Linked DNA regions of Homo sapiens. The protein of the gene in region 2 interacts with the protein of the main gene of each other region in a pairwise test. Each region holds a gene or a part of one and is shown on either strand. Other genes may lie near its edges. The genes, in order: BMF, BCL2L2-PABPN1 and RIMS3.

Region 1 (3,653 bases), on a different chromosome or scaffold from region 2:
TTGGTTCTGCTGGTGCTGAAGGGAGAAAAAAAAAAAAGACCAACATAACTCCCAAACGCAATCTTAGACGACTCCCTCTCATTTCCAGTAAAAGTTCAGATCTCCAAGTCTCACGGCTGGCACTTTAATCCTATCAGTACAGCTCACAGCGGGGAGGAGGGGGAGGTGAAAGAGACACTGCCATGTGGAGGAGAGAGTTGAGTTCTCCAAAAACAATTGCAGTTTTAACATTAAAAAGAAAAGACTAGGCTCTATATGCACTATGCACAAGAGGATTAAGCTTTTTCCCCTGCTTGCAGGATTTTCCAGAGTTTAGCCAAGTGCTGCTTTTAATCAGATTGGCTCCCGAGCCCCTCAAACCTCAGCTGCATGAACAACAAACTGGCTTCAGAAAGAGAAGAAGTGCCCCCCTCTCTCCCCCGACTCCAAAGTAACACAGAGAACAAGGGGAAAGGGGGGGCCTCCATCTGCAAGTGATTTGACACTGTGAAGGTCAAAGGGTTAATCTTCAATTTAAACCACACTGCTGAGGCAGCAAAAATCTGATTTCATCCAGTGCAAACACGCACACACACAGACTCACACACACACACACACACACACCCTTGTGCGCCCGCCCGCTCTCCCTCCCCAGCATCTCCAGCTCGGTGCTGCCCTTTTTATAGATGCTCTTGACAGTAAGCCATAAATAATCCCTCTTGGAGCGCTCTCCTACTGACTGGAGCCAATTAAACATTAAGCAAGAACATACTTGAAAACAAAACAAAAACAAAGAATATATACTATGCTCTGGAGGTTATCCCAGGTCCTACTGTCAGGCTGGGAAGCTAGGGGCAAAGTTCAGGGGTCAGTGGCTCACCAGATTGGGGCTGGTGCCCTGCCCACACAGGTACCATTTCCCAGGAGAGGCCTGGGGGGGTGGAAACTGGGGGGTGCTGGAAGAGGCGGTCTTTGTTCTCTCTTTGTCTGCCAGGGCAGGAGGACTGGGCGGGGGCCTCTCCACAGGGTTCTCACTGGACAGGGGAATAAAAACCTAGTGTGCAGAAAGGAGCCAGCACGGGCTGGACTTGGATTACTTCAGTGGCCCCGTCAGCAAGCAAGTTTACATGAGGTGTCCAAGCCTTCTCTTAAACTGTCTTTAACCACAGCACCAGCCCCCACCAGGCAACTACTCCTGGTCAGATGGGAAGAGGAGAGAGGAAGCCAGCGGCACAGCTGGAAAGGGGGCCCAGGTTGCCTGGACTCCCAGAGCTTCCAGGTTCTGTCCAGCCCTGGCCTCCCTGACCTTTCCCAGGGCCACCATGCAGGTTGCTGGCTTCCCCTTCACGCTGCCCTAGGCCACAAAAAGAGAGGCATCCAGGCAGCTGGCCTCAGGGCCTGACAACCCAGGTGAACACGGAATGCCCCCGTCCATCATGGCAACAGCATTCCTCCTTCCCCCGTGGAAGAGCCTGGAAAACAACCCGGCAAGCTGGAGGCGCAGCTCCTGCCCGGAGGGGAAGGGAAATCGGGCGTGCCACAGAAGAGGCCTGGCAGACAGAGGGTGGGGAGATGGATGGCTTCCTCGTGTTTTGTAAACAAAGATGAGTAAAAAGAGGAAACACACCCGGCTTAACAAAATCTGGTTAGAGTAAAACAGCGTGAAAATGGACTCAGCTGCAAACCCGAAGCCTCCGGCCTGCAGCAGCTGGGCCAAAGACCCCCTCTCCTCCCCTCCCCAGCTGCTGACCGAGACAGGTGCAGAGGTCATGTGGCCGAACAAGAGGAGAATCCAGGAGCAGACTCATCCCTGGAGAGGCCAGTCTGCTGGAATTCCAGTTCTCCTGAGGTGCTTGTCTGAGAAGACCGGTGGCAAGAACAATCATCACCTCATAATAGTAACGTGGGGTTAGGGTGGCAGTCGGGGGTGGGGAGGTGCCAGGCTCTGTTCTGTGTGTTCTGCATCCTTGCTTCTCAAAGGGTGGTCCATGGACTAGCAGCCTCAGCATCATCAGAGAGCTGCCTGGAAATGCAGACCCAGCATCAGAAGATTCCCCAGGTGATTTTGAGGCACATTATCATGCCCATTACTTAGCGACCACATAGCTAGTTTAAGTGGCAGGGACTGGACTGAACCTAGACCATCTGGCCCTAGAGCTATGTCCCTTCCCATTATCTCTGTGCTCAGAGTGCCACTACCTTTCTTTATACCAAAGCAGACCCTCTAGCCTCCCCTTTACTAAATCATCTCAAAACAGCTCAATGGCCAAGGAAAGCAGATGAGAATTCTATGATTTGGGGCTGAGGCAATTCTCATCTCTGTATGCCTCAGTTTTCTCCCAAATTCCACTAATGGAGGCCACCTACTCCCTGGGCAACTTGAGATCTCTGAAGATGAGGCACAGACTCCCATCATCTGGGAGCGTTGGGGGACTCAGAAGCAGCTGTGGGCCAGAGAGTGCTTTCAGACAGGAAGGCTGAGGTCTTGCAGGGGACCCAGGCAGGCCTAGGTGCAGGAGGCAGGATACATGGGCCGGCCCTTGGGAAGGAACTAGTTTCCATGCCTCTGCGTGTGACAGTCCTTAAGGCTCATGAATTGGTAAGGAAGGCTCTATGGTGCATGGATCCCCAGGGACCAGGAATCAGAGGACCTGGCTTTCGGGTTGGATCTCCCATCAACCTGCTCATGAGTTCTCTCTTGGCTTATAAGGAAAATGCAGGTATTGTACTAGATCAATGGTTTCTAAACCCAACTGTGTCACTAAGCCAGCTGAGGTGCTCTTGTAAGTATAGAGTCTCCAGGCCTCTCCCAGACCCACTGGGTCAGAATTTCAAGGAAGGGTCCCAGGAATCTGTATACTGAACAAGCTCCCTTGGTGACATTTTAGAGATCAGAAATCATTTATTGTATATTTTAATCATAAAAGCAATACATGTTAATTGTAGAAATATTGGAAAATACAAGACATTACAGAGGAGGAAATAAAGTCACTCATGATCCTCCAGGCTAGAAAACACTTCACGTGTTGGTGTTTTCTTCAGTCCCTTTCGATCTCTTTCCACCAAAGTAATGTCTTACCCCACTGGCCAAGCCAGAGGTCAATCCTGCCCAGGTGGTTCTGTGGCAGCCAGGCCACAGCCTTTTGGAAACCACAAAGGTGCTCTCCAACCCTAAGGAGTTTGTCATCCACGACTACCTTCAGGATTACAACTCAGAGCTCCAACAACTGAATTCTGTCAGCTGAGTGTAGGGCCTGGGAACCACCCATGGGCCCATGAGCCCTCTCTGGCTACAAGCAGATACCACACAGGCTCCCTTTGGCCTTCTCCCGCCTCAGGGCAGCCCTCACAAGACCCTTTTCCATGAGGAAACCAAGATAATCAAAGAATGCCCTGATTACAAAATACAACAATAAATAAAATTTTTCCTAAAAGTTTAACAAAAGGGCCTGACTAGAAAGGAAAGAAAAAAGACTTGAAGGGAGGCCAGTGGGAGAAACAGTGAGGAGGAAGGAAGTTGGCCTTCACTGAACAGGATGAAGAACACAAAGATACCAAAACACCAGAGAACGTGGGATCTTCCACAAGAGGGTGTGGAGGAGAAGGGGAAGAGAGGGGAACCAGGAATGAGTGTACTTGGCCTCTGACCCTCAGGCACCCGGCACAGCACCCAG
Region 2 (3,653 bases):
TCTTAGGATTTATAAAAGCCTATCAGTTACTCAAGAGGGGCAAAAAAAATTTTGTGGCTTTTCTAAGAAGACAATGATATAGTGGACACCACCTTCTGTGACATCTAAAAGCAAATATGATGTTGAGTTTTGACCACTGTTTCTTCTAAAAACACCAAATGGAGATTCAGAAGGTCCTAAGCGAGAAATAACACTGGTGGAGAACTGTATGAAGGAAATATAATCCATCTATCGCTTTAGATAGCCCAAAATTTAATCCTGTATTAAACCAAATCATCATAGAGCAGCATATTTGGGCTAAATTGTGATGAACCTAGTAGAACACACTTAGGACCTTCTGAATCTATTAGAAGGTCCTAAGTGTGTTAGGACAAATGACACCTTCAATAAAGTTGGGCAACACTTAGTTACAATTATTAGTAAATGGATAGATTGTAGATATTCTGTGTTGTTACTTTTTTAAATTTTTATTTATTTATTTATTTTGAGATGGAATCTCGCTGTGTTGCCCAGGCTGGAGTGCAGTGGCGCGATCTCGGTTCACTGCAACCTCCACCTCCCGGGTTCACTCCATTCTCTTGCCTCAGCCTCCCGAGTAGCTGGGACTACAGGCGCCCGCCACCACGCCCGGCTAATTTTTTGTATTTTTAGTAGAGACGGGGTTTCACCGTGTTAGCCAGGATGGTTACCATCTCCTGACCTCGTGATCCGCCCGCCTCGGCCTCCCAATGTGCTGGGATTACAGGCGTAAGCCACCGCGCCCGGCCCTCTGTGTTGTAACTTAATAGCAAATCCTTTGAAGACTTTAAAAGCTGCTTTAAGGCTGGGCGCGGTGGCTCACGCCTGTAATCCCAGCACTTTGTGAGGCCGAGGCGGGCGGATCACGAGGTCAGGATCACAAGGTCAGGAGATCGTGACGGTCCTGGCTAACACAGTGAAACCCCGTCTCTACTAAAAATACAAAAATTAGTTGGGTGTGGTGGCGCAGTCCCTGTAGTCCCAGCTACTTGGGAGGCTGAGGCAGGAGAATCGATTGAACCCGGGAGACGGAGGTTGCAGGGAGCCGAGATGGCGCCACTGCACTCCAGACTGGCGACAGAGTGAGACTCCGTCTCAAAAAAAATAAAAATAAAAAATAAAATAAAATAAAATAAAATTTGCCTTAAATGTAGATACAGGAGAAATACAGAAATAAATCGACTATTTTGAAACTCAGCAGAAAATACACCATAATGAAATGCTGTGTAGTTTATTCAGTCAGTCATTTATGCAGCAAATATTCAAGCATCATCTGTGTGCTAAGCACAGTTACAGGCTCTGAGGTAGAGTGAACAGACAGATGCAAATCTCTGTTCTCATGTTGCTTATATTATAGTAAAAGAAACAGAAAACTTAACAATTATGTAATATGTGAGAAGGCGATGAATACCATAAAGAAAAATAATTCATTGAGGGGAATGTGTGTGTATATATACACACGTAAGAGTTCAATTTTAAATTGAGTGGTCAGAGAAGGCCTCATTTCTAGGGTGACTTTTGGGTAAAACTATGACAAACAAAATTGGAAAAATATATTTATTGACATGGGAAGATGTTTGTCTTTTTTTTTTAATTGGGTAAAAAAAGAAAATAGATTAGAAAATAATATATACAGTATGATCCCATTTTGCTAAAATATTTATATCTGTGTGCCTTGATATATATTTGCATATTGAAACTTTCAGGAAGTATATATGCCAAAATATCATTAGTGATTGTCTCTGGATAGTGGGCTTTATGAGTGCTTTTATTTTGTTCTTTTTGCTGTCAGTATTTTCTGATTCTTTGACAATGAACATATATTTCCAGATATTTCCAGTACAGTATATGAAAACAAGTTCTTTAGGTACAAAATTTTTAAAAAGTTAACGAAGCAGGATGGAAATTAAGCAGCCCAACAGAGGGTCCTTCACATTTAAATGGCTACCCCACTTCCATGCAAAGGCAAACTTAGGGAGCCAAGGTAAGCAGGACCAGACCACATTAGAAGATTATTGAGGTCTGCTCCAAGACAGAGGTCAGTAAAGGAGAAAGACTCCATGGTTCTACATCAGCACTGTCCAATAGAAATATAATGCAAGCCACATGTAGTTTTACATTTTCTAGTAACCTCATTTAAAATGCAAAAAGAAATTATTAAACCAATTTTAATATTTTATTTAGCCCAGTATATAAAAATATTATCATTTCAACATGGAATTAATATTAAACAGTTATTAATGAATTATGTCACATTCTGTTTTTCATACTAAGTCTTCAAAATTCAGTGTGTATTCAACACTTAGCACATCTCAAGTTGGACTACTCATGTTTCAAGTGGTCAGTAGCCATGTGTGACTAGTGGCTATCATATTAAAGTGTAGCTCTAGATCATAGGTCATTATTATAGTCTGTAAAAATTTCAAAGTAGTTCCAGATCATAGAGCATTATTGTAGTCTGTAAAAATTTCAAGAAAGGAGATAAAAATAGGGATGAAACTACCAAGACGTCAAATATTTATGTCGTTTGGGGAGAAAACTTTTCTGGGAAGAACTATGAATGCCCTCACCCATTTTTACTACTTAATTCTCCTTTTCTTAACTCCACTGAGCCATTCCCTTCTTCTTCTTCTTTTTTTTTTTTTTTTTTGAGATCGCCCAGGCTGGAGTGCAGTGGCGCGATCTCGGCTCACTGCAACCTCTGCATCCCGGGTTCAATTGATTCTCCTGCCTCAGCCTCCCGAGTAGCTGGGACTACAGGCGCAGGTCACCACGCCCAGCTAATTTTTGTATTTTTAGTTGAGACGGGGTTTCACCATGTTGGCCAGGATGGTCTTGATCTCCTGACCTCGTGATCCACCCACCTCGGTCTCCCAAAGTGCTGGAATTACAGGCGTGAGCCACTGCGCCCGGCCGATTCCCTTTTATTAATACATTTTCCCGTCTTCTGGGGCACAGTATCATTGGAGTTTCACTTTTTCCAAAACTCCATGGTCCTTTGTTTATAGGTTATTACTTAGAGAGAATTATAATGGGTGAATCTCACACCATTACATACCAAATTTCAAAAAATTCATTCTCAGAGGAAAACTTATCTCTTTGATATTCTCTATGCATCAACAACAGGCAGGATAATAAATACGAGTATTCATTCATTTATTTTTTTACTTTTTTAAAAAAATAAGATTATTCATTACTGAAGATGACTCATTCAGTTATCATTTACTGAGCACAGAGTGATAGGCAAAGGGAACACAAATATAAGATGGTTCCCTGTCTTTTACAGTTTATAGACTAATAGGGAAGGATCTTACAAGTCACCATTCAAAAAGCTTTTTTTTTTTTTTGAGACAGTCTCACTCTGCTGCCCAGACTGGAGTGCAGTGGCACGATCTCGGCTCACTGCAACCTCCGCCTCACGGGTTCAAGTCATTCTCGTGCCTCAGCCTGCTGAGTAGCTGGGATTACAGGCGCACGCCACCATGCCCAGCTAATTTTTGTATTTTTAGTAGAGACGGGGTTTCGCCATGTTGGCCAGGCTGGTCTCGAACTCCTGACCTCAGGTGATTTACCCTCCTCGGCCTCCCAAAGTGCTGGGATTACAGGCATGAGTCATCGCACCTGTCCCTCAAATA
Region 3 (3,653 bases), on a different chromosome or scaffold from region 2:
AGTGGAGGCGAGGAGGCACCTCTGGAGGAGCTATCCTGGGGAGGAGCTGCTGGAAGCCAACACAGCCAACACCTAAGAGAGGGAGGGGGCAGGGAGGTTCTGTCTGAGAGCTCATGAAATGGGCCAGACTGAAGCTAACAGGACCAAGCGTAGGCTTCAGGTAGTACCGTCATCCCTCAGTATCCATGGGGGATTGGTTCCAGAACCCTACCTCGCCCCCACCCAGGGATACCAAAATCCTTGGATGCTCCAGTCTCTAATATAAAATGGCAGCCAGGAGGCCAAGGCAGGCGGATTGCCTGAGTTCAGGAGTTCAAGACCAGCCTGGGCAACATGGTGAAACCCCGTCTCTACTAAAATACAAAGAAAAAAAATTAGCCATGTGTGGCGGTGTGCGCCTGTAGTCCCAGCTACTCGGGAGGCTGAGGCATGAGAATTGCTTGGACCTGGGAGGTGGAGGTTGCAGTGAGCTGAGATTGTGCCATTGCACTCCAGCCTGGTGACAGAGCGAGGCTCTGTCTCTAAATAAATAAATAAATGGCAGCCAGGTACAGTGGCTTATGCCTGTAATCCCGGTACTTTGGGAGGCTGAGGTGGATGAGGTCAGGAGTTCCAGACTAGCCTGGCCAATACAGTGAAACCCCGTCTCTACTACAAATACAAAAAATTAGCCAGACATGGTGGCACATGCCTGTAATCTCAGCTACTCAGGAGGCTGAGGCAGGAGAATCACTTGAACCTGGGAGGTAAAGGTAGGTTATGGTGAGCCAAGATTGCGCCAGTGCACTCCAGCCTGGGCAACAGAGTGAGACTCCATCTCGAAGATAAAATAAAATAAAATAATAAAAATAGCATAGTGTTTGCATATAATCTATGCACATCCTCCCATATGCTTTATTTTATTCAGTTTTTGAGACAGGGTCTCACTATATTGCCTAGGCTGGCCTCAAACTCCTGGGCTCAAGCAATCCTCCAGCCTCAGCCTCCTGAGCAGCTGGGACTACAGGCACAGGCCACTGCAACCAGCTTCTTCCATATACTTTCAATCATCTCTAGATTATACTGGTGTGCCGCATAATGACATTTCAGTCAACAATGCATCATATACATGACAGTGGGCCCGTAAGATTATAATGGAGAATATATAGAAACCTGATATATGGTACTTGATATTGGCATTGCAGATCAAATAGGGGACATGATTGATATTCAGTAATGGTGCTAGGATATACGGTTTTCCATATGAAAAAATACATATAAATTTATATATATATATATATATATATATATATATATATATATATATATGCCATCTAGGTTTGTGTAAGTACACTCTATGATGTTCACACACTGAAAATGACTGTACTTATAATACCTAACACAATGCCTACATATCACTTCCTTTGCATGGATTCAGGGTAGTACTCGGCACACAGCAAATCAAATTTTGCTTTTTGCAACTCTGTGGAATTTTTTTTCCCTGAATATTTTCTATCCAAGGTTGGTTGAATCCACAAACACAGAACCCATGGATACAGAGGGCCAACTATACTTCCTAGCTGCAAGGAAAAGCGATAAGAAAATTACTAAAGGGCCTCTAGGTGCCAGGCGCTGTTGGGTGTAACAAGTCAAATAAGCCACAGTTCCTACACATTAAATTGAAATACCTCATGCAAAGCATCTAATAGGAGCTCAGTAAAGTATTGTTAGAGCATAGAACTCAAGTGGGTATTATTATTCCCATTTTAAATATGAGGAGACTGAGGTTCAAAGAAGGGAAGTGACTTGCTTAAGATCACAGAATTGGTGATAGAATAAACTCTACGATGGCCAATGCAGGGCCCCCACTGAGCTCACCCTTCCTGTCGCATGGTCACCATTACCCCACTCAACCTGCCCTTAATAAGACTCACCCATGGGTGGTGTTGCCAGTGTCTGTCGCCCCACAATCTGAGCTGGTCCCAGCCCATCCAGGAAATCGCTGAACTGGCTTTCAGCCCCTAGCCGGGTAGTGGGGAAGATGAACCTGCAGGAGGAGGCAGAGGGACGCGTGAGGGGGTCAGGGCAACCTGAGGATGAAAGTATAGCTGGCAGGCTGCCATGCTCTGGCCCTGGGGCCCTGGGCACGTCCCTCTGTGCCTCAGTTTCTCCTCTAAACAGTATGATTGCACTACTCTGGGAAAGGACAAACAGAACTGTTTATTTCTGCATACTGAAGAAAAATACTTTGATGTCACTTGAGAAAATAAACTAATAACAATACATAATGATGCTATTTAATCCTTAATGTCCAGGGACTTCTGAAGTGACCCTTACAAGGCAGGGCTTGCTGGACACCTGTGTCCTCACCAGGGCATATCAGTGCTAAGAACCAGAGACATAGGTCAGAAATTTCAATGCCTGGAACAAGTTACAAGAACTGAGGTTTGAGTTGACTGCAAGTTTGAAATCCAAGTCAAACATGAGGTGGTGCCCAGAACAGCAGCTAAGACCAAAATAACACAATTACAGGGTTGAGGTGAATGGCAAGTGATGGTGGTTGGTGGTTGTTCCATGACTGTGTGGGGGTCTAGAAACAGTAACAAGAAAAGCTGACAGTGATTGACAACTGGCCAGGTGCCAATGGTACATTAAAAATTCCACATGGGTTATATCTTTTAATCCTTACAACCACTCTGTGTGGTAGGAGCTATTATCCAGTCTTACAGATGAGAAAACAGAGGCTCCAAAAGGTAAAATTGCCTTGCCTGCAAAACAAAATTCATAGGGTTTTATATGTTGAGGATTAGGGCAAATGAAAAGTTCCAGACAAACAGAAAGCACTAAATGATAGTTCCGGTTGCTGCTGTTGTTATCATCAAGGGAAAAGTGCTACTTCTCTTTTGTGCTCCAGTCTAGATATTCTGGGTGTGGCCAGCTGAGAAAGGACAGATGAGGGAGGGTTGGCCCTGCCAACCCTCAGGGGCTATGATAGAATAAAGTTCTAAGATCTCCTAGAAAGGCCCAGGCTCCTGGCTGCAGAGATAAAAGGCTGTCCAAGGAAGAATCTCCTACTAGATAGTTTGGCCTTGAGTCCCCCTTGGCTAGCGGCCAGCAGGGAGGAAAAAGTAGGCTGTGTATGCTTGTCAGAGAGAGCCTGTGTCTCTCCCTGACTAGGCCCAGCCTCCACCCCACAGGGAGGGGCTTCAAGGCCCCACTTTTATTGGCCATGGTCAACAACAGCCTAATATCACATTCTTAGGACAATGATATCTGAGAAGGTTAAATAAAGAAACTTAGACTCTCAAGGTCACAGAATTTTAGGAGCTGGATATAGTGTGGAGATTGTGAACAAAGGTCATGGAATCAAATGGCCTTAATTCCAATTCTGACTCCATCACCACTTAATAGCTGTGACCTTGGGTAAGGTGGCCCACCCTCTTCCTCTCCCTGTTTCTCCACTTGTAAAATGGAGATAATGGTAATACCCACAACCCTCAGGGTTGCTGTAAGTGTTAAATGATCCCTGTTAGGCCGGGTGCAGTGGCTGTAATCCCAGCACTTTGGGAAGCTGAGGTGGGCGAATCACCTGAGGTTGGGAGTTCGAGACCAGCCTGACCAACATGGAGAAACCCCATCTCTACTAAAAATCCAAAATTAGCCAGGCGTGGTGG

What was found.
Region 1: the proteins of BCL2L2-PABPN1 (region 2) and BMF interact in a two-hybrid assay, tested with the Homo sapiens proteins (one large-scale study listed by BioGRID).
Region 3: the proteins of BCL2L2-PABPN1 (region 2) and RIMS3 interact in a two-hybrid assay, tested with the Homo sapiens proteins (one large-scale study listed by BioGRID).

Annotation. Positions count from the first base shown.
Region 1 is NC_000015.10:40,091,874-40,095,526, forward strand, and holds part of BMF (bcl-2-modifying factor), read right to left. Parts: intron 2,003-3,653; exon of another isoform or gene 1,730-2,002; intron 16-1,729; coding exon 1-15. UniProt on the Homo sapiens protein: May play a role in apoptosis. Isoform 1 seems to be the main initiator.
Region 2 is NC_000014.9:23,313,249-23,316,901, forward strand, and holds part of BCL2L2-PABPN1 (BCL2L2-PABPN1 protein), read left to right. Parts: intron 1-3,653.
Region 3 is NC_000001.11:40,631,156-40,634,808, forward strand, and holds part of RIMS3 (regulating synaptic membrane exocytosis protein 3), read right to left. Parts: intron 2,027-3,653; coding exon 1,914-2,026; intron 1-1,913. UniProt on the Homo sapiens protein: Regulates synaptic membrane exocytosis.